Regions from separate parts of the Homo sapiens genome. Here region 1 is linked to region 2. Evidence: fine-mapped expression QTL. A gene starts in region 2. The other region holds a variant in brackets. All regions are shown on one strand. Distances are from middle to middle.

Region 1 (9,691 bases), 82 kb before region 2:
TTTCTCTTTCACTTATGAAACTTAGTTTGGCAGGATATGAAATTCTTGGTTGGAATTTGTTCTCTTTAACGATGCTGAAAATAGGCCCTCAGTCTCTTCTGCTTTGTAAATTTTCTAAGAGGTCTGCTGCTAGCCTGACAGGGTTCCCTTTATAAATGACCTGACTCAGGCTGGGTGCAGTGGCTCATGCCTGTAATCCTGGCACTTTGGGAGGCCGAAGTGGGTGGATCATGAGGTCAGGAGATCGAGACCATCCTGGCTGGCATGCTGAAACCCCATCTCTACAAAAAATGCAAAAAAGAAAAAAAAATTAGCTGGGCGTGGTGGCAGGCGCCTATAGTCCCAGCAACTCGGGAGGCTGAGGCAGGAGAATGGCATGAACCCAGGAGGCAGAGCTTGCTGTGAGCTGAGATAGTGCCACTGCACTCCAGCCTGGGTGACAGAGTGAGACTCCATCTCAAAAAAAAAAAAAATGACCTGACTCTTCTCTCTGGTTACCATTAACAGTATCTCAGAGGGGTTCTCTGTATTTATTGAATTTTCATGTCATCCTCTCTAGTAAGAGTGGGGAAATTTTCGTGGATTATATCCTAAAATATATTTTCCAAGTCGCTTACTCTCTCTCCTACTCTTTCAGGAATGCCGATGAGTCGCAGATTTCGTCTCTTTATGTAATCCATGTTTCTTGGGGATTTTATTTATTTATTTGAGACAGGGCCTCACTCTGTCACCCAGGCTGGAGTGCATTAGTGCAATCATGGCCCACTGTAGCCTTGACTTTCCAGGCACCAGTGATCTTCCCACCTCAGCCTCCTGTGTAGCTGGGACTATAGGTGTGAACCAATATGCCCAGCTAATTTTCGTATTTTTGATAAAGATGGGGTCTCACCATGTTGCCCAGGCTGGTCTTGGACTCCTGAGCTCAAGTGATCCACATGTATTGACCTCTCAAAGTGCTGGGATTACAGATGTGAGCCACTGTGCCTTTACAATTTTATTTTATTTTATTTTTTGAGATGGAGTCTCGCTCTGTCGCCCAGGCTGGAGTGCAGTGGCACGATCTCAGCTCACTGCAACCTCCGCCTCCCGGGTTGCTGCCATTCTCCTGCCTCAGCCTCCTGAGTAGCTGGGACTACAGGCACCCGCCACCATGCCTGGCTAATTTTTTGTATTTTTAGTAGAGATGGGGTTTCACTGTGTTAGCCAGGATGGTCTCAATCACCTGACCTCGTGATCCATCTACCTCGGCCTCCCAAAGTGCTGGGATTACAGGCATGAGCCACCACGCCCAGCCCACAATTTTACTTTTAAAAATTCTTTTTTCTTTATTTTTGTCCGAGTTGATTTGCAGAACTGGTCTATGAGCTCTGAGATTCTTTCCTCAGCTTGGTCTAATATGCTGTTAATGCTTCTGACTGAGTTATGAAATTCTTGTAGGGAGCTTAATTCCAGAAGATCAGTTTGATTCTTTCTTAAAATGGCTATTTTGTCTTTCGGCTCTTAGATAGTTTTACTGGATTCCTTGGATTCAGTTTTAACTTTCTCCTGAATCTTGATGAGCTTCTTTGCCATACAGATTCTGAATTCCTTATCTGTCATTTCAGTCATTTCATTTTGGCTAAGAATCATTGCTGGGGAGCTAGTGGGCTCATGTGGAGGTAAAGGGGTGCTCTGGATTTTAGAGTTATAGAATTCTCACACTGGTTCTTTCTGATTTGTGTGGGTTGATGTTCCTTTAACCTTTGAAGTTGCTGTCCTTTGGATGGGGCTTTTAACTTTTACGTTCTTCACATTTTTTTCTCCAACACACCATTGCTGGTTTGAAGCTTTTAAATTTTTCAATGCCCTTAAAGGTTTGACAGTAGTATAAGTTGGGTTTAGTTGACTGGCGTCATTTCTGGATGCTTTCAGAAGTCCTAGGCTCAGCTTGGCACTCTTGGGCTGCCTGCTTTAACTCTGGGAGGGACTGGGACTGGGTCTGTGGCTTTGTTCTCTGGTTTCTCGATGTCAAACACTGGCTGCACTGAGGGGGCCGAGGTGCTCCCTCTCCACTGGCAATCGTGCTCCATCAGGGGCTGCTGGCAAAAGCACTCCAATGGGATGGCAGTGGGGCCACAGGTGAAAGTGCTCCACTGGGCCAGCAACGGTCTTGGGTGAAAGTGCTCCAGCATGGTGGTGTAGTGAGGCGGCTCTGAAGTTTCAGTGAGCCATTGGTCTACAACTAGTAGCAGCTCCTGTACCTTCCCCCAACCCCTACGTTTTGTTGAAGGAGAGGTTATATTACTTCTCACTCCATAAGGCATTTCCTTAATCCAAAAGATTAGGTGATACTGTGGTTTGATTGTGATGCTTAAGAATGCAGTCTGAGTTTTCAAATCAATGACACTTTGAGTAATTTAGAAAATGCTTTAAATGACTCCAAACTCTAGCTTGTGGAGTTTATTTCATATAGTTAGTTTTCTATAAAACGTCATTAAGTCTCCCTTTCTCTTTCTGTTGGCCCTTGGTCACCAACCAGAAAAGGACATCCAGAGTTGGGATGGAAGGTAGACCTTAGTTCTATTAGAGAAAATGTAAAAGCATTTTCCCTATGCAAGGGAATTCCTTGACCATAACTTGATTACTGGGGACAGCAAATTTGAATAACTAGTAAACTTAAAAACCAGCTCTGCAATTCAATAATATAGCCTCAGACATTGAGAAAAGCACTTAAATAAATCTCACATGCTACAAACTAATGAAACTTTCCAAAGGAAAAAAAAGTAAATATATATGTATTGTAATATAAAACAAAAGGAAAATGGGGCTAAAATAAATTGAAAGGGCCCTCAGATATTTAAAACCAATAAAAATACTATATTTTGGGAAGATTTTAAAAGTATCATTGGAAAAAGCAGTACTGGCAAATTCTGTCCTTTTTCCCCCCTGAATTTGTTTTCTTCTTAAATTAAAACTCACAGCAAAAAAAAAAAAAAAAAAAAAAAAAAAAAAAAAAAAAAAAAAAGCAAGCAAGCCTCTCTAGCTGGGCTATGAGGAATACTATTCATTTCTCCATTTCTCCCCCTGACCTGATTAGTTGGAACATCTTTCGAATGATTAGTTTTCAATTTGCACCATTGTCAGAGAGAAAGGCCTCCAAATTAATGGCCACATTGATTGTTTATGCCTCCAAGAGACAAATTAAAAAAATTTCAGCAACGCTGAAAAGAAATAGTGATCTTCTGAAAAGATTTAGCTTAATAGATTTTTTAAAAAGAAAAATGAAGGTTTTGGCAACTTGCAAAAAGTATGTTTAAAATTCCAGTTACAAGTCTGGCTGCCTAGAGAGTTTGAGTACTAAGGGTTTTGTCGATTTTTAGCATAAGAAGCTGACCTAAGATTTTGGGATCCTTGGACCCATCAGTGGAAATTTTGATAGAACTGCAATTCTGGCTCATACATAGGGCCCATTTACCATGCTCACTTCCTTTTAATAAGAAATGCTGTGCCTCACATCTTCCCTCCATTGTCCTTCCTGGGTAGTTCATCCTCTCTGCCTCTGCTTTTGGAACCACACTAAAAATTCAAGAGGAAAGGTTTCTACAAACATTGTTCTGTTTGGTTGGCACAGAAGGGACAGGAATTTGCACAGAGCTTTTGTCGGGCAAGTTTCTCTTAATTCCCTGCCAATGAAGTTGTAATGCTGTGTCTCAGATGAAGAAAGGTAACAACAGATGAGACAACTATTCACTCCATCTTACATTTACTCTAAAGAACTGCAATATGTTTTTGCAGCAGGGGAAGGACCACATTAGAAGTAAGCTTACTTTCATTATTGATATTTACCTTGTTGAAATTGGCCAATATAATGATGCAATGGCTATTCATGATAGCAGCATGCCCAAAATTGTAGCTCACTGAGGACCAATAATGATCAATGTTCAAGGATGAGAAATATAGTAATGTTTTCTCTGTTCTTGTTGAGGTTTGATGATTGTTGTTTATGCCATGGCAAATGAGGTTTCATTAGATATTAACATAGTTTCCATGATTTAAATTGGTGTTGAATGCCCATTTTTCTCAATATCATCTCATTTCCTTAACTTTCTTATGTGTCTGAACCTGGTGGTCATACTCCCTCTCAAATCCCTCTTTGTAAATTCTTTGATGTGGGTCAGCACAAAAAAGAGGTGTCAGTCTCAAATGACACCTTATTTCAATGAGGTCCAATTATGGTCAAAGAGATGGTCAAAACCAACAATTTATGGAATATTAAACTGGTAAAGGCAGAGATCAAACTGATCATCTAAGGCTTGGTATCCAGCATTTGAAGCCCTACATGCCCCCCGTATTACTAAGCCCAGACCTGCTGTTGGCAGGTCAGCACAATCAAGATTGCTTCACACAACTGCAAACTGAATGACCAAGCACTGTGTAGCGTAATGGGGCCCTGCAGTCATCACTTATAAAACCCAGAACCATAACATGGATCATGTGTTCCATATGAATTGCCATGGTTGTATATCTAATTTTTTCCCTGTCCCAAACTATGGTACTAGTTATTCACAGCAGATTGGTAATATTTTGTAAAACCAATGCTTTGACTATGTGATATTAACACTCACGAGGACCTGATAACTTCCAAACACAGCAGAACATTTGGACACTTGTCACCTGAGTCCTGTGCCAGCTATACCAACTTGGCTGAACTGTTGTCATATTCCACTAGTCTCTACCTAAGGTCATCTCCAGTCTTGGCTCACTTAGCTAGCTTTGGAATTTGCTCTCCCCTTTATCCAATGCTTCCTCTTCTTTGTTACATTATATTGCTCAGGTCTTTTAAAAATCTGTAGAACAAGCTCTTGCTTGAAGCCTTCCTGAAGTCATTGGTTCCACTTTTTTTTTTTTTTTCAGGCCAGAAAAAATAGCCTCTGATTTACTTTCCTGGGTGATGCACTATTAAAAATTCTATGATTATATAATATTTCCTATTGCAGAATATCTCTTGTTATACTGAAAGCTATTGAAAACTGCCCTTAATAGATACTTTAAGGTGTCTAGTGGTATATATCAAGCTGGGTTGGGGAGCAAAGGTAGCGGGTTGTGTAAACCCCTTTCTACCAGGAGGTTTCCCTGGTGGAAAGAGTATTTTTTTAAGTCACTGGCATTGTTTAGAATTGCTGGTGCATGGTAATAATAAGCAGACTAGCTTTCAGTTGGGTTTATTATCATTTTTAAGTTATCTACAGACAATGAACCCCTTTATACCTTGGCAGACTGCTCTCACTTCAACACCTTCCCCCTTGTATATCACTGTTCAAAGCAACCCCTAAATGATCAAATTATATATGAGAACAAAACATTCCTGAAAGATCCTCCTTATTGAAGTACATATTTCACATGGCATAGTCAAAGTTTTCAAAGACTATAGGGAAAGGAGCCGCACACT[CTG/C]TGTACATAAGTAATTGCAGTTATTCTCATGTGGCCTAAGACTACAAAACACGCTTGCATCGGCTTTTGTGCTCTAGCACTGTCCTTCTGTTAATACAAATGAATTAAAGAAATTAACCAATTTCTTAGAGTCTACATAATCTCACATTTCTTAATTTGTTGGATTTGTCTCCACTATACTCAGCTTAATCTCTTTTGTGGTCTCCCCTCATTTAAGTAAAACTCGTAACAATTCACAACAAATAATCAAGCCAAATGAAATTTTTTTTTCTTTCTGAGGACTATGAGACCTGAAGGTCCCTACATATAAGGTCATGTCCGATAGTTCACCTTCTTACCTCTCAAACACTTTTGCTATTTTTTCAATGTCTTTCTTCCCAGCGAACTAGTTAGGGAAGTGTAGGGGGCATGAAAGCGTGTGTGGAGATGGGTGCATGGAAGCGTTTTAGGGCCAGGGTAGAATGACACATCCCACAAGTACTCATACCCTACATTACTTATTGGCAGAATTCAGCCACATGCCACACCCAGCAGCAAAGGAAGCTGCAAAATGTAAACCCATGAAGAAGAGGAGATGAACACTGGTGACTAGTTAGTGGTCTCTACTACACCACCAGTTAGTCAGGAGAAGGGCAAACTCAATCTTGTCACTGCCAAAAATCTTGTGCTCGGGTGCATTGCCTCACACATTGTAGATTCGTAGAAAACACCTGCCAATTAGGTTTGTGCTAAGTATTCTATGAACGATAAGGAAAGAGTGGGCCTGCAGTAATCTTCAAAAACTTTAATCAAGTCTTACTTCTAATAGACCAGCCAATCTGCTAAAAAAACCAAGAGGAGACTCAGCAGATCCCATGAATGTTGATGAAGTTTGATCATTTTGTGGAGAATTATGAAATCAAGGACAATTTATAACAATTCACTAAAAAATGGTTGCAGGGCTTGTTAACTTTCTAAGTAATCAGTTTATGCACACGTATATTTGATTACATAAGCTATTTGCATGTTTATATATAGAGAAAGAAAAATAATTGGTGTTATGTGGTTTTCAGAGACAAAAGAGAGGACATGTAAACATTTGCATTGAACAGACAGAGCCTAAATTCAAGATCTCAGTATAAGGCATCCTGGAATAAATGGGAGACAATATTTCCTGTTTTCAGTTTCCCTTACTATTGCATGTCACTTAGAAAGCCTAGCAACCAATTTATAAGCCCTCACAGATCAATCACTGCTAGGCAGTAGCCCACATTGTGTTCTAATTCTAAGCATTTCTTCTTGTCTCAGAAATGAACACCGATGTAGATTAACCATGTCTACATAGAGGACATGGTTAATTCTTTCAGGTACCATATGAGAACAATGATGACTAATGGGAAACATTTTTAAGATCACAAGAGAACAGTATATTAACAAGCAAAAAATGTAATCATCTCAAAATAACAGGCATTAACAAACCTGTATACTGCAGAGATGCATTGTTCCTGCATGCAAAGAAACTGATGAAATGATTCCCACTGCTATGCTCAGAGAAAAATTAAGTGACAGGTCCCTTTTATTTAGGAGTGTGCTGTTTTTTTTTTTCCCTGATGATGGACTGATGATATTATATAAAGGGTTATATAGTGAAGTCATGCTACATCAAATTACTGCTTACACAGGATGCTTCTGAACCATTTAACCTGATACTACAGAATAAAACATGTGTAATCAACAAGCACTAAAAAGGAATGAATACGTAACAAGAATGATCCTTCACTTACCTGAAGAATGTGCATGAATTCTATTCAATGACAGTTTTAATCGATTGTACCTCTTTGATTTTGGCATCCAGATCAACTCCCTACTGATTACTTAGAGGACCCATTGATACTTGGAAATGAATGACTTAAATACCCATAAATATGAAGAACATGGCATAATGTCAGAATTGAAACATTGCTCAGACCCATGACCTAGCCAGTGGCTCCAATTAACAATATTAAACCAGTGATTCTCAAACTTTAGGATGCATCAGAATCACCTGGATGGTTCATTAAAACACATGTTGCCGGACGCCAGTCCCAAGTTTCTGATTCAGTAGATCTGAGGTACAGTCTGAGAATTTGCATTTCTAACAGCTTCACAGGTATTGCTGATGCTGTTGGCGCAGGGGCCACACTTTGAGAACGAATGCATTAAATTAATAATCAAACATCTGATTGAGGAACCACCATATGCCTGGAAATACAGAATAACTGAATTTCCCATTAAAGCGTTGGAGATATTACCCAAACCACACATTTTTATGATAGCTATCATATCAACTTTTATTTAAAATCTTAATCTCCCCCCCTCCCCCACTGACAGAGCAAAATGAACAAAATAAACGATTCAACCCCCCTTCCCATTACCTTGCATCAGAGTCTTCTTGGAAGCTCTACCAAAATAACTCTACATCTTCTTCAGAATCTTTTTTCAGCCTCATTACATTTAGGGAAAAGAATGCAGGTTCCTCTTTGGCACTGTGTCCTCAGCTAGTCTGTGGGAAGCTCAGCAACTTGCCACTTGTTCCCAGTTTAAGTAACAGGAATGAGATCATCAACATTTTCTATTGGGTCTCCTCAATCTCCTCCTGATTCTGGTTTAATACTGGTATGCAATGGACATGTTGAACCCCAATGGTTAAGAAACTCTAAAACTTTTGGCTATGTGCTGGAAGGACCCCGAGAGACAGTCTATCCTGGGTTAAATTCAGCCGCATATCTGTTTTGTTTGGCTGGTACTGTGTTTCAGGAAGAACTGTGCCTGAATGCCTTCAGGAGGCGCATGCTCTCAGTGGCTTGTACTTCCCCCTGATTTGCCGCTGACTTCACGCATTTACATTACCTGCCTGGCCCTGTAGGTCATTGCAATTGAAGTACCTGAAAAACCCTCTGCTTTAACAAATGAGGAAACTAGGCTTTGAAAAAATTAAGTAACTCTCACAGAGTCATGCTGATAGCTAGTGACAGAACAGGACTACAACTAATAGCTCAAGATCCTCTCTCTCTCTTTTTTTTTTTTTTTTTTTGCTGCTTTCTCAACTTCTGGAGTCTCTATTGGTGTCAACACAGACTTTAGACAAGAACTTGATCAGCATCGCCTGCCTCACTCTGTATTACTTTAAGGTTATACCTATCACAGTCACCCACCTCAGTCTATCAGATGTGCTCCATACCTTTCTCAACATGGTACCTTCCTGTGGAGTGCTTTGAAACATGTTGAGACACGACTTCACATTTTTTGGTTTGTAGAGGAAGAAAATACGTGAGTAAGTCCAAGGTAAAAGAAACAACTTGAGCTCTGGCTTTGGAGTCACTGATAGAAATAGTATAGATTTTCACAAAGGCATCCTTATAAATAAAGCCAACAAAAACCAAACAAAATAAAACCAAACAAAATTAGACTTCAAATAAAAGGCCAATGCCACAATCTGGGTTTGAAACATAGTAAAGACAAGAAAGAGAAAGTTTCTCCCTGGTCTTCCTTAATTTGGCTGCCTGTGCTATTCTCCAAATTCCTTTTATCATCATTAGGTGGAGAACATTCATTCACCTGCTCCAATTTGACCTTCTTGTTTTAATGGTCAAGCAAAGCACAGGGCAGGAGAACTAAAAGCAGTGGTTCGCAAGATTAAGCATACATAGCCATCACCTAGGAGTTCGTTGATGATGCAGCATCTTTGAAACCAGCTGCAGAGATTTCTGATAGGCCTGAAATCTATATAGTTAGCTAGCACTCACAAGTGTTTTCCATGCTAGTGATGCCTAGAACACACCTGGAGAAATGCCTTGTGCTTTTCAAACTTCAGTGTGTTTACAAATCTCTGTTGAAATGCAGCCTCGTTAAGTAGGTCTGGGGTGGGGTCTGAGGTTGGGCATTTCTCAAAAATTCATGTAAGGTGCTGGTCCAGAAACTGCTCTTTGAGAAGCAAGGGTTTAGAACTCTGATATGGCAGGGAGTTATATTTCCTAGGTTTAAAATTCAGCTCTCCACTTTTCCGGTTGTCAGTCTGAAAAAGCAGCTTAACCTCTCTGAGCCTCAATTCTTTCATTCTCAAATGGGACACACTTACATGGCAATAGAAATAGGAGAGAGAGAATACCAAGTTTTTTTTGTTTGTTTTTTGTAATGGAGCTTTGCCCTTGTTGCCCAGGCTGGTGTGCAATGATGTGATCTCGGCTCATTGCAACCTCCACCTCCTGAGTTCAAGGGATTCTCATGCCTCAGCCTCCCAAGT
Region 2 (9,691 bases):
AAATGGGGGTTAAGGGGAATAAATAAGCACAATAGAGGAACCTCCATGGACCACTGATGACATTGCGCCATGAACCAAAGAGTGTTATTAACTCAAGCCTCTGTTCCTGAGAGCCAGAGTAAACAAAACAAAACAAATGTGCTCCGTTGAAACTTTCAAGCTTCCTCCAAAGGGGCCTGTCAAATTGGGGATATCCTACCTGCCCTCAGTTATCCCCTCTTAGGTCCTGAAAAATGCTAAACCTGGCCTAGACCACTGAAAGGGTTGATGACGTTTCTGTGTTTCCTCTCTATCCTGTTGGGGTATTATCCATGATATTGTGATTTTCAATATGTTATATTAACCTCTATATGGTATACATCTCTTGCCACCTACTTATATTTAGGGTTCATGATTCTAAGTCCCACATATGTGGGTGTCCATGACAAAATTCCAATCTTAGATGATACTTTTTGCTGTTCTCTCTTTTTCTAATAGCAAATAATTTTCATGATAGTAAACAGCAAATCGAATAGCAAAACTTAAATGCCCATCACTAAGAGACTGGTTAAATAATTATGATACATCCTTACAATAGACTATGCAGCCACAAAAACAAATGAAGAAGGTTTTAAGGCACCAATATAGAATTAACTTGTAGACATAGAAGTAAGTGAAAAAAAAGAGCGTGGAAAATCATGGGGATAATATGCTACAATTTACAAGCTTGTATATCTCAAGCATCTCTGAAAGAATATATAAGAAACTAATATTGGTTGCCCTAAAGGAAGAGACCCAGGTGACTCTGGACAGAGATAGAAGGAGATTTTCTGTACGTTTATACCTTTTGAACTTTTGGATTATGTGACTGCATGAACTGTTTTAAATTAATATGTAAAAATCAATAAATTTGGGAAAGGGGTTAGGGAGATGTTGGTCAAAATAAACAAGAAAAGATAAAAGAGGAGGACCAAATTAAAAATATAAAATAAAATCTACCAATAAAATTTATAAATTTATAATAGTCAAGGATTAAAAGTTTTCAGAATATTATATCATATATATGTAGATACAGAATAAGCAAACAGATTAAAATGATTATAACTATGCCCGCTATTGGTAGGTATAAAGTGATGCTGAATTTTAACAACTTAATTTAAAATCTTTAATTTTAAAAATTAATTTAAAATTAAATAATTTAAAATTTTAAAAGGTTTACAGTAGGTTTAAAAGTGGTGCTGAATTTTAAAAATAACCATGTATGTCAGAACTTATACACCATGTAAAGAATAACCTGTTTAAGGTCACCTTAAGAGGTAATACACTTACTTAAATGTAGCTGCTACTGCTGAACCTATTCTGGATTTCTCTAATATAGGGTTTTAAAATTTGGGGTCCATGGAGTCTGTGGATAAGATTCAGAGGCCTGTAAATCTGGGCAGGAAAAATTATATCTTTCTTTGTACTAACCTCTTTATGAAAGTTAAAGTTTCCTGGCCAGGCGCGGTAGCTCAAGCCTGTAATCCCAGCACTTTGGGAGGCCGAGGCAGGCGGATCACAAGGGCAGGAGATTAAGACCATCCTGGCTAACATGGTGAAACCCCGTCTCCACTAAAAATACAAAAAATTAGCCGGGCGTGGTGGCGGGTGCCTGTAGTCCCAGCTACTCAGGAGGCTGAGGCAGGAGAATGGCATGAACCCAGGAGGTGGAGCTTGCAGTGAGCCGAGATTGTGCCACTGCACTCCAGCCTGGGCGACAGAGCAAGACTCCGTCTCAAAAAAAAAAAAAAAAAGGAAAAATAGAAAGTTAAAGTTTCCTTTAATTATGAAAGCAATAGTAATACCTAAATTTTTGTTACCAGTGAAAATTCTGAGTCTAATTTAATTCTGTTATTTTCATAACACATTTTAGTTTTTGCAGATATCTGTAAATATCATTCCCAGGTTGATATTAGACATTTTTAGATCTTCTTATTTAATATGTTATTAAAGAAGAAAATATGTTACTATGTCACAATTTTTAACATTTTGATAACTGTATTCAATATAATTGGCTCTTTATAATTCTATATATTTTCTTTTATACTTATAAAAATGATGATTCTGAGACAGAGTCCAGGGGCCTTACCAGAGTGCATAAGCTTCCCAAAGCACAGAAAGTTAGACCTCCACACCTCCACAAATAGATCTAATTTCAGGGCAAGAAAAGCAGTGATGATGCTTTATGACCATATGTTCTTTTTGACAAAAAAGCAGTCTTTAACAGTTTTGGCTAATTGCAAAAAGCCAATGCATTCTCAAAGGAAAAAGATATGCCAACACTGAAGATACTTTTGAGAAAATTCCATCATCAAAGAAGATGGTTTTTGTTTTTTACAGACCCAGTCTTTCTCTGTCATCCAGGTTGGGGTGCATTATTGGAGTGATCATGGCTTACTGCAGCCTCAAACTCCTGGGCTCAATTGATCCTCTGGCCTCAGCCTCCTGAGTAACTGAGGCTACATGTATGCACCACCGTGCCTGGCTAATTTTTTATTTTTTATTTATTATTTTTTTTTGTGTGGGGATGAGGTCTATGTTGACCAGGCTGGTTTCAAACTCCTGGGCTCAAGCGATCCTGCTGCCTTGGCCTCCCAAAGTGCTGGGAATTACAGGTGTGAGCCACAGTGCCTGGCTAAGATGGAGTTTTATATACAGAATTATCAGGCCTTCTTTCATATCTCATCCTCAATATGCAAATAACTAATTCATTTAGCAAATATTTATTGAACGTCCATTATGTATGAGGCACTATTGTAAGTATTGGAATAAGTGCAGTGAACAGGTCAGATATGGTAACTGCCTGGATGGAGTTTATGTTATAATGGAAGCAAATAGACACAAGAAATATGATCGCATCAGGTATTTATAAGTGTTATGGTGAAAATAATGCAGAGTAATCTAATCTAGGGAGTGAGAGGGTGACTAGGGTCACCCATGTGGTGGCTAGGTGCCTGGGTCTGGCGTTGCACTTCTTCCATTCAAATCCTGGCTCCATGCACCTCTGGCTCTATGGCCTTGTCCAGTTGTGCACTCTCTAAATCCCAGTTTTGTTACCTGTAAAATGGACATATTAACATTACCTACTTTAAAGAGGTGTTTTAAAGAAAATGGCTACTCCTAACATCTCCCCAAGAACCAAGCACAGAATTTTGGAAGTTTTAATATATTTTCTTAAAGAAGTCTCTTTCTCAGCATTGTAAGACAATTAACTAGATTCAAGTCTCAGAGTTGTTAAGTTATTTTATCTTAAGGCATCCAACGGCACAGATTGACATTAAAGTGAAAGAAGAACTAGCTTCATCATTGCCATTGTTCTTTACCATAGCCCATGGGAACACAGGACCCGGCTGACTGAGAAAAGTGAATGAGGGGAATTATATCAGAAATGACAGAGAAGGATGGGCAGGATTTCTGGCAGGCACAGGTATTTCTAAGTAAGAAATGGTGTGGTTAGGAGAGAATACTCTCAAGAAGGGGAGAGATGGATTCTGCGGCAAAGGGAGGTTCCTTCATTCAGTGTTTATGGAGAGAATAAAGGCGCTGGCCCCTCCAGTGAGGATATGGAGTAAACGAGACAATCAAGTCCATCACTCCTGGAGCCTGCATTCTAGTGTGGAAGACAGACAGCAAATGATACATCAACATTAAGAAATTCATGAGTAAATAAAGATAATTTCAGGCAATAATAATTACTCTGAAGAACATAAACAGGGACCTATGATAGAAAAGGGGTGTAAAGGAGTTTGGAGGATTTAAGCTGAGTGAGCAATCTCATCTCTATTTTGATAAGGTCACTGTGGATTCTGTGTGGATAACACATTGGATGTGGATAAGAACAGGAGCAGAGAGACCTCCAATAGCAGGAGGCTGCTCTAGGGGTCCTTGCAAGGGATGCTGGCAGCTTGGACCCGAGTGGTGGGATGCAGATGGAAGAGGCAGGTGGACAGATGAGACAGCTGAAGCAGGAAAAGCAGGCACAAAGGCTAACACAACACAATGTAACAGAACGGGAGTTTAGAACGGAAGGAACACTCCAGAGTCATTCTGGTCCAATTCTGCAGATGAGGAAACCACATCCCAGGAGGCCGAGGCGGCTTGCCCCGCATCTCAGAAGCCGGGCAGGCCCTGAGCCTTCTGACCTCACATCCTCTGCCACACCACAGTGGAGAAACCAGAACTGGAGGAGCAGCCAGAATGCAGAGAAGAAAAAAGAGGTGAGGGAGCGAGGAGGAGGGAGAACAGAGAGAGAGGGAAAGAGGCAGCGAAGGGGCAGAGAAAATGAAAGAAAATGCTGGTGGAATGAGAGGGAAACCACAACAGGTGAAAACAGGGATGGCGGAAGGCAGGGGAGAGGAGTGAGACGGCCCTTGTTGCTGGGATTATTTAGGGCGGATAGTTTCCAGTTGAGGTTCGGTTTCATAGCCCATTGCCTGGCTGCCTGCAGCTGTCAGGGCACCAGAGGCAGCAGTTGGAGCAGCTGCCTGCACCACCTGAGCCACAAGGACAACGGCAAGGGAAGTGCAGATGGGCAGGAAGTCCCTCTGGGTCGGAGCCAGGGTAGCCAAGATCACATTGTTCTTGCCCACCGCGTGGGATGCTCAGGCTTCCCAAGGCAGCCCAGAGACCAGACCCGTCCTTTATCCTTAGCATGGCCACCATCATCACCATCATCGCCATGCTCCCACTTCTTAGGATCATGTGCCGGGGGCTTTGCATGCATTTCTCTCTTTCATCCTCACAGAAGCACTTGAGGGGGGTATAGCTTTCCCCAGTTTACAGATAAAGACACGATGGCTTCATTCCTTAACTCACTAACCTCATTTCAGAGCCAGGAAATGGCAGAAAGGCCCTGCTGTCGTGTTTTTTGTTTGTTTGTTTGTTTTTTTGTCTTGTTTTCTCCTCTTGAAGAGGACACACGGAGCCCTGGGTTGACGTTATAGGAGGTGTTGGTGCCGTGCACTGAAGGGATCTGCTGTTTTCTCCTTCCTGCAACTGGAGGTCACTCAGCCTGGACTGATGAGGCCGGGGAAGCCTGTGCTCTGTCTGGTCCACACAGCCCCCTCAGCCACCCCAGGGAATGCTCAGATCCAGTTGCACAGGTAGCCCACAGAATACAAACAGAACTTTCTTTTAGAATTTTTATGCTGTTTTATTGTTTCATACAGACAACTACCGACCTTCCCTTTTTTCCTTCAAGGCCCCTTTCAAATGTCACCTCTTCTATGAAGGTTTTATTTCTTTCCAGGCAAAATAAACCACTCCCTTTTTGGTGCCCTCATAGTTTTACATTTTGGCCTAAAGCACTTGTTCGCCTCCTCCATCAGAGCATGGGATTCTTGAGGGAAGGAACTGTGTTTTAATCATTTCTGTATCCTTGGCATCTAGCACAGTGCTTGGCACAGTAAAAGCTGTCAATAAATGTTAGCTGAACTGAAAAGTAAAAAATGGAAAGGGCATTTGTTGGGGCCAGCATAAGTCAACTGTTTCCATCCTTGTTTCCTTAACTCAGAAACTCAAATGAAGAAAGACATTGTCAGTCTCATGAGCAGTCCATATTTTTTTTTATTGGTGAGAGATAAAGTAAATGGCATGTGGATTTCCTTTGGAAGAATAACAAATAAAATTCTTTTGTAAGGATGTGAATTATAAAATTAACTTTTTTTATCTCCAGATTGTCATTTTGCAAGGAAAAAAATATAAGTAATAAATATGAACATACCTTTTTTATTTCAGACTTTTGCTCCATAGGCAATAGAAATGAGATGGCCAATTACAGTATTGAAGCAGAAGTACAGATATAACTCAGTGCAGAGGCAAATATGGCACATGATATTTTCATATTTTTATGTGTTACTATGAGTAACACTATTGCAAATTCATTTTATTTATGATTTGGTCTTTGTAGCTCCAATTTCATTATTAACTGAAATTTCATAGCATCATTCTTACTGACATGCATTGAAGATAAAAATGTTCTATATTTTCCTCATCTATCCTTGTCTTTTTCTTTATTAAAAATGTAGCCATTGGCAAAATAAAAGAACTAGCAATAAGCATACTGAAATCACAACTGAGACACATGACAATAATCTATAACCATGACACCTGTCCAGGCTGCATCCAGCCAAATATGGATCCAAAAAAAGGAATACTCATATTTGTTACTTATATTTTTTTCCTTGCAAAATAACAATTTGGAGATAACAAAAAGTTAATTTTATAACTCATATCCTTATAAAATACTTTTATTTGTTATTCTTTGTCTCTCGTCAATAGAAAAAAATATGGACCGCTCATGAAATTGACAATGTCTTTCTTTATTTGAGTTTTTGAGTTAAGGAATAAGGATGGAAACAGTTGACTTACACTGGCCCCAACAAATGCTCTTTCCATTTTTTGCGTTTCAGTTCATAGTAGGAGCTCACTCAGGACTTAGCTGTCAGAGAGAGGACAGTCTGAGGCCTATGTGCACTTCCCAGCACAACATCTCACATCCTCCTCATTTTTTATCACTCAAGATATTGAAAAACTAATATGCAAGGATGCTGTCATTATAGGGGTAATCTTCAATCGTCTCTAATTATATTTAAAATTATGTCATAAACTTCAGAAAGTAACCAGTATTAGTGTATACCTTATTATTAGCATAATCCAAGCTGGCCTCACCTACAAATAGAGTCATAATTATAAAAATTTTATCTTTTAGTCTCCTACTTTCTCAAAATGGAATTTGTCCCCACTAAAAGTTATCCTTCAAAGTAGTGCTTCACCTGTGCCCACAAATACCTGTGGCTATTGCACAAATATTGTGTGGCTTCTACCAGGTTTTCTTCCTGACCTAGCTCTCATTTGTTGATATTTGTTATCCCGTCAAACCTTTCTGTTGCTCAGCTTTGCAGCATGGATGGTGCAAAAATGCAAATGTTGCTCTGTCTGATACTGTTCCCAAAGCTGGCAAATTGTAGGATGTCACCATGGGGCAAGCTCCATGAATGAAGGGATTAGGGGTGAAGAGAAGAGAGAACTGACCTTTCTAACAAAGTTCAGAGACCTAAATTACTGAACTTTTCCCTAATTCTGTATTAGTTTCCTATTGTTGCTATACTGAATTACCACAAATTTAGTAGTTTAAATCTGCACAATTCATTATCTTACAGTTAAGAGGACAGAAATCCAATCAGGGCCTTATTTGGCTATAGTCAAGGTGTCAGTGGGGCTGTGGTTTTAGCTGAAGGCTCTTAGGGAGAATCCTTTTCCTTTCCTTTTCCAACTTACAGATTTACCTGCATTCCATTGCTCATGGTCCCATCTTCCGTCTTTAAAGCTAACAATGTTGCAGCTCTCTAACCTTTTTTCAAAGTAATGTATCCCTTTAACTTTCCTGTTTTGCTTCCCTCTTCTACTTTTTACTTTTTCTTTTTTCCTTGTATTTTTTTCTTTTTTTTTTTTGAGATGCAGTCTCGCTCTGTCGCCCAGGCTGGATTTGGAGTGCAGTGGCGCAATCTTGGCTCACTGCAACCTCCACATTTCGGGTTCAAGTGATTCTCCTGCTTCAGCCTCCTAAGTAGCTGGGATTACAGGTGAGCGCCACCATGCCTGGCTAATTTTTGTATTTTTTTTTTTTTTTGAGACGGAGTCTCGCTCTGTCGCCCAGGCCGGACTGCGGACTGCAGTGGCGCAATCTCGGCTCACTGCAAGCTCCGCTTCCCGGGTTCACGCCATTCTCCTGCCTCAGCCTCCCGAGTAGCTGGGACTACAGGCGCCCGCTACCGCACCCGGCTAATTTTTTGTATTTTTAGTAGAGACGGGGTTTCACCTTGTTAGCCAGGATGGTCTCGATCTCCTGACCTCATGATCCACCCGCCTCGGCCTCCCAAAGTGCTGGGATTACAGGCGTGAGCCGCTGTGCCCAGCCCTCTTTTCCACTTTTAAGGGCCCTTTTATTACATTAAGCTTTCTCAGATAACCCAAAAGAATCTCCCTATTTTAAGGTCACCTGATTAGCAATCTAAATTCCATCTGCAAACTTAATTATCCTTTGCCATAGTTCTGAGGATTATGACATGAGCATCTTGGGGGAGAATATTATTCTGCTACCAAGAATATATTTTTTAAATATTCTCATTTCCATAGGTTATTGTGGAGTAGGTGGTGTTTGGTTACATGAGTCAGTTCTTTAGTGGTGATTTCTGAGATTTTGGTGCACTCATCACATGAGCTGTATACATTGCATCCTATTTGTAGTCTTTTATCCCTCACTCCCTTCCCACCCTTTCCCCCTGAGTCCCCAAAGTCCACTGTGTCATTATTATGCCTTTGCGTCCTCACAGCTTAGCTCTCACTTATGAGTGAGAATATATGATATTTGGTTTTCCATTCCTGAGTTACTTCACTTAGAGTAATACTCTCCATTCTCATCCAGGTCACTGTGGATGCCATTAATTAATTCCTTTTTATGGCTGAGTAGTATTCCATTGTATATATATACCACAGTTTCTTTATCCACTCATTGATTAATGGGCATTCGTATTGGTTCCATGATTTTGCACGTGCAAATTATGCTGCTATAAACATGTGTGTGCAAGTATCTTTTTCGCATAATGACTTCTTTTCCTCTGGGTTGATACCCAGTAGTGGGATTGCTGGATCAAATGGTAGCTCTACTTTTAGTTCTTTAAAGAATCTTCACACTGTTTTCCATAATGGTTGTACAAGTTTACATTCCCACCAGCAGTGTAAAAGTGTTCCCCGTTCACTGCATCCATGCCAGCATCTACTGTGCTTTGATTTTTTGATTATAGCCATTCTTGCAGAGTAAGATGGTATTGCACTGTGGTTTTGATTTGCATTTCCTTGATCATTAGTGATGCTCAGTGTTTTTTCATATGTTTGTTGGCCATTTGTATATCTTCTTCTGAGAATTGTCTATTCATGTCCTTAGCCCACTTTTTGATGGGATTTTTTTCTTCCTTGCTGATTTGTTTGAGTTTGTTGTAGATTCTGGATATTAGTCCTTAGTCCTTTGTCACATGTATAGATTGTGAAGATTTTTTTCTCACTCTGTCAGTCATCTGTTTACTCTGCTGTTTCTTTTGCTGCGTAAAAGCTCTTTAGTTTAATTAAGTCCCAGCTATTTATCTTTGTTTTTATTGCCTTTGCTTTTGGGTTCTTGGCCATGAAATCCTTGCCTAAGCCAATGTCTAGAAGGGTTTTCCCAATGTTCTCTTCTAGAATTTTTATAGTTTCAGGTCTTAGATTTGAGTCCTTAATCCATCTTGAGTTGATTTTTGTATATGGTGAGAGATGGGGATCCAGTTTCATTCTCCTACACGTGGCTAGCCAATTATCCCACCACCATTTGTTGACAAGGGTGTCCTTTCCCCACTTTATGTTTTTGTTTGCTCTGTCAAATATCAGTTGGCTGTAAGTATTTGGGTTTATTTCTGGTTCTCTATTCTGTTCCATTGGTCTATGTGCCTATTTTTATACCAGTACCATGCTGTTTTGGTGACTATGTCTCATAGTATAGTTTGAAATCAGGTAATGTGATGCCTCCAGATTTGTTCTTTTTGCTTATCTTGGTTTGGCTATGCGGGCTCTTTTTTGGATCCATATGAATTTTAGAATTGTTTTTTCCTAATTGTGTGAAGAATGATGGTGGTATTTTGAT

What was found.
Region 1: its variant is fine-mapped to the expression of HMHB1 in lung (TOPMed, PIP above 0.99).

What each region holds. Positions count from the first base shown.
Region 1 is chr5:143,725,915-143,735,605 of GRCh38, forward strand. No RefSeq gene overlaps it. Among named protein-coding and RNA genes, the nearest start is that of MIR5197, 51 kb to the left of the region's middle. The variant CTG/C (reference allele first, on the strand shown) is at 5,429.
Region 2 is chr5:143,808,070-143,817,760 of GRCh38, forward strand. It overlaps HMHB1 (histocompatibility minor HB-1), which reads left to right and starts at 4,092. Exons shown (of 2, transcript NM_021182.3): 1 at 4,092-4,235. The coding sequence starts at 4,199.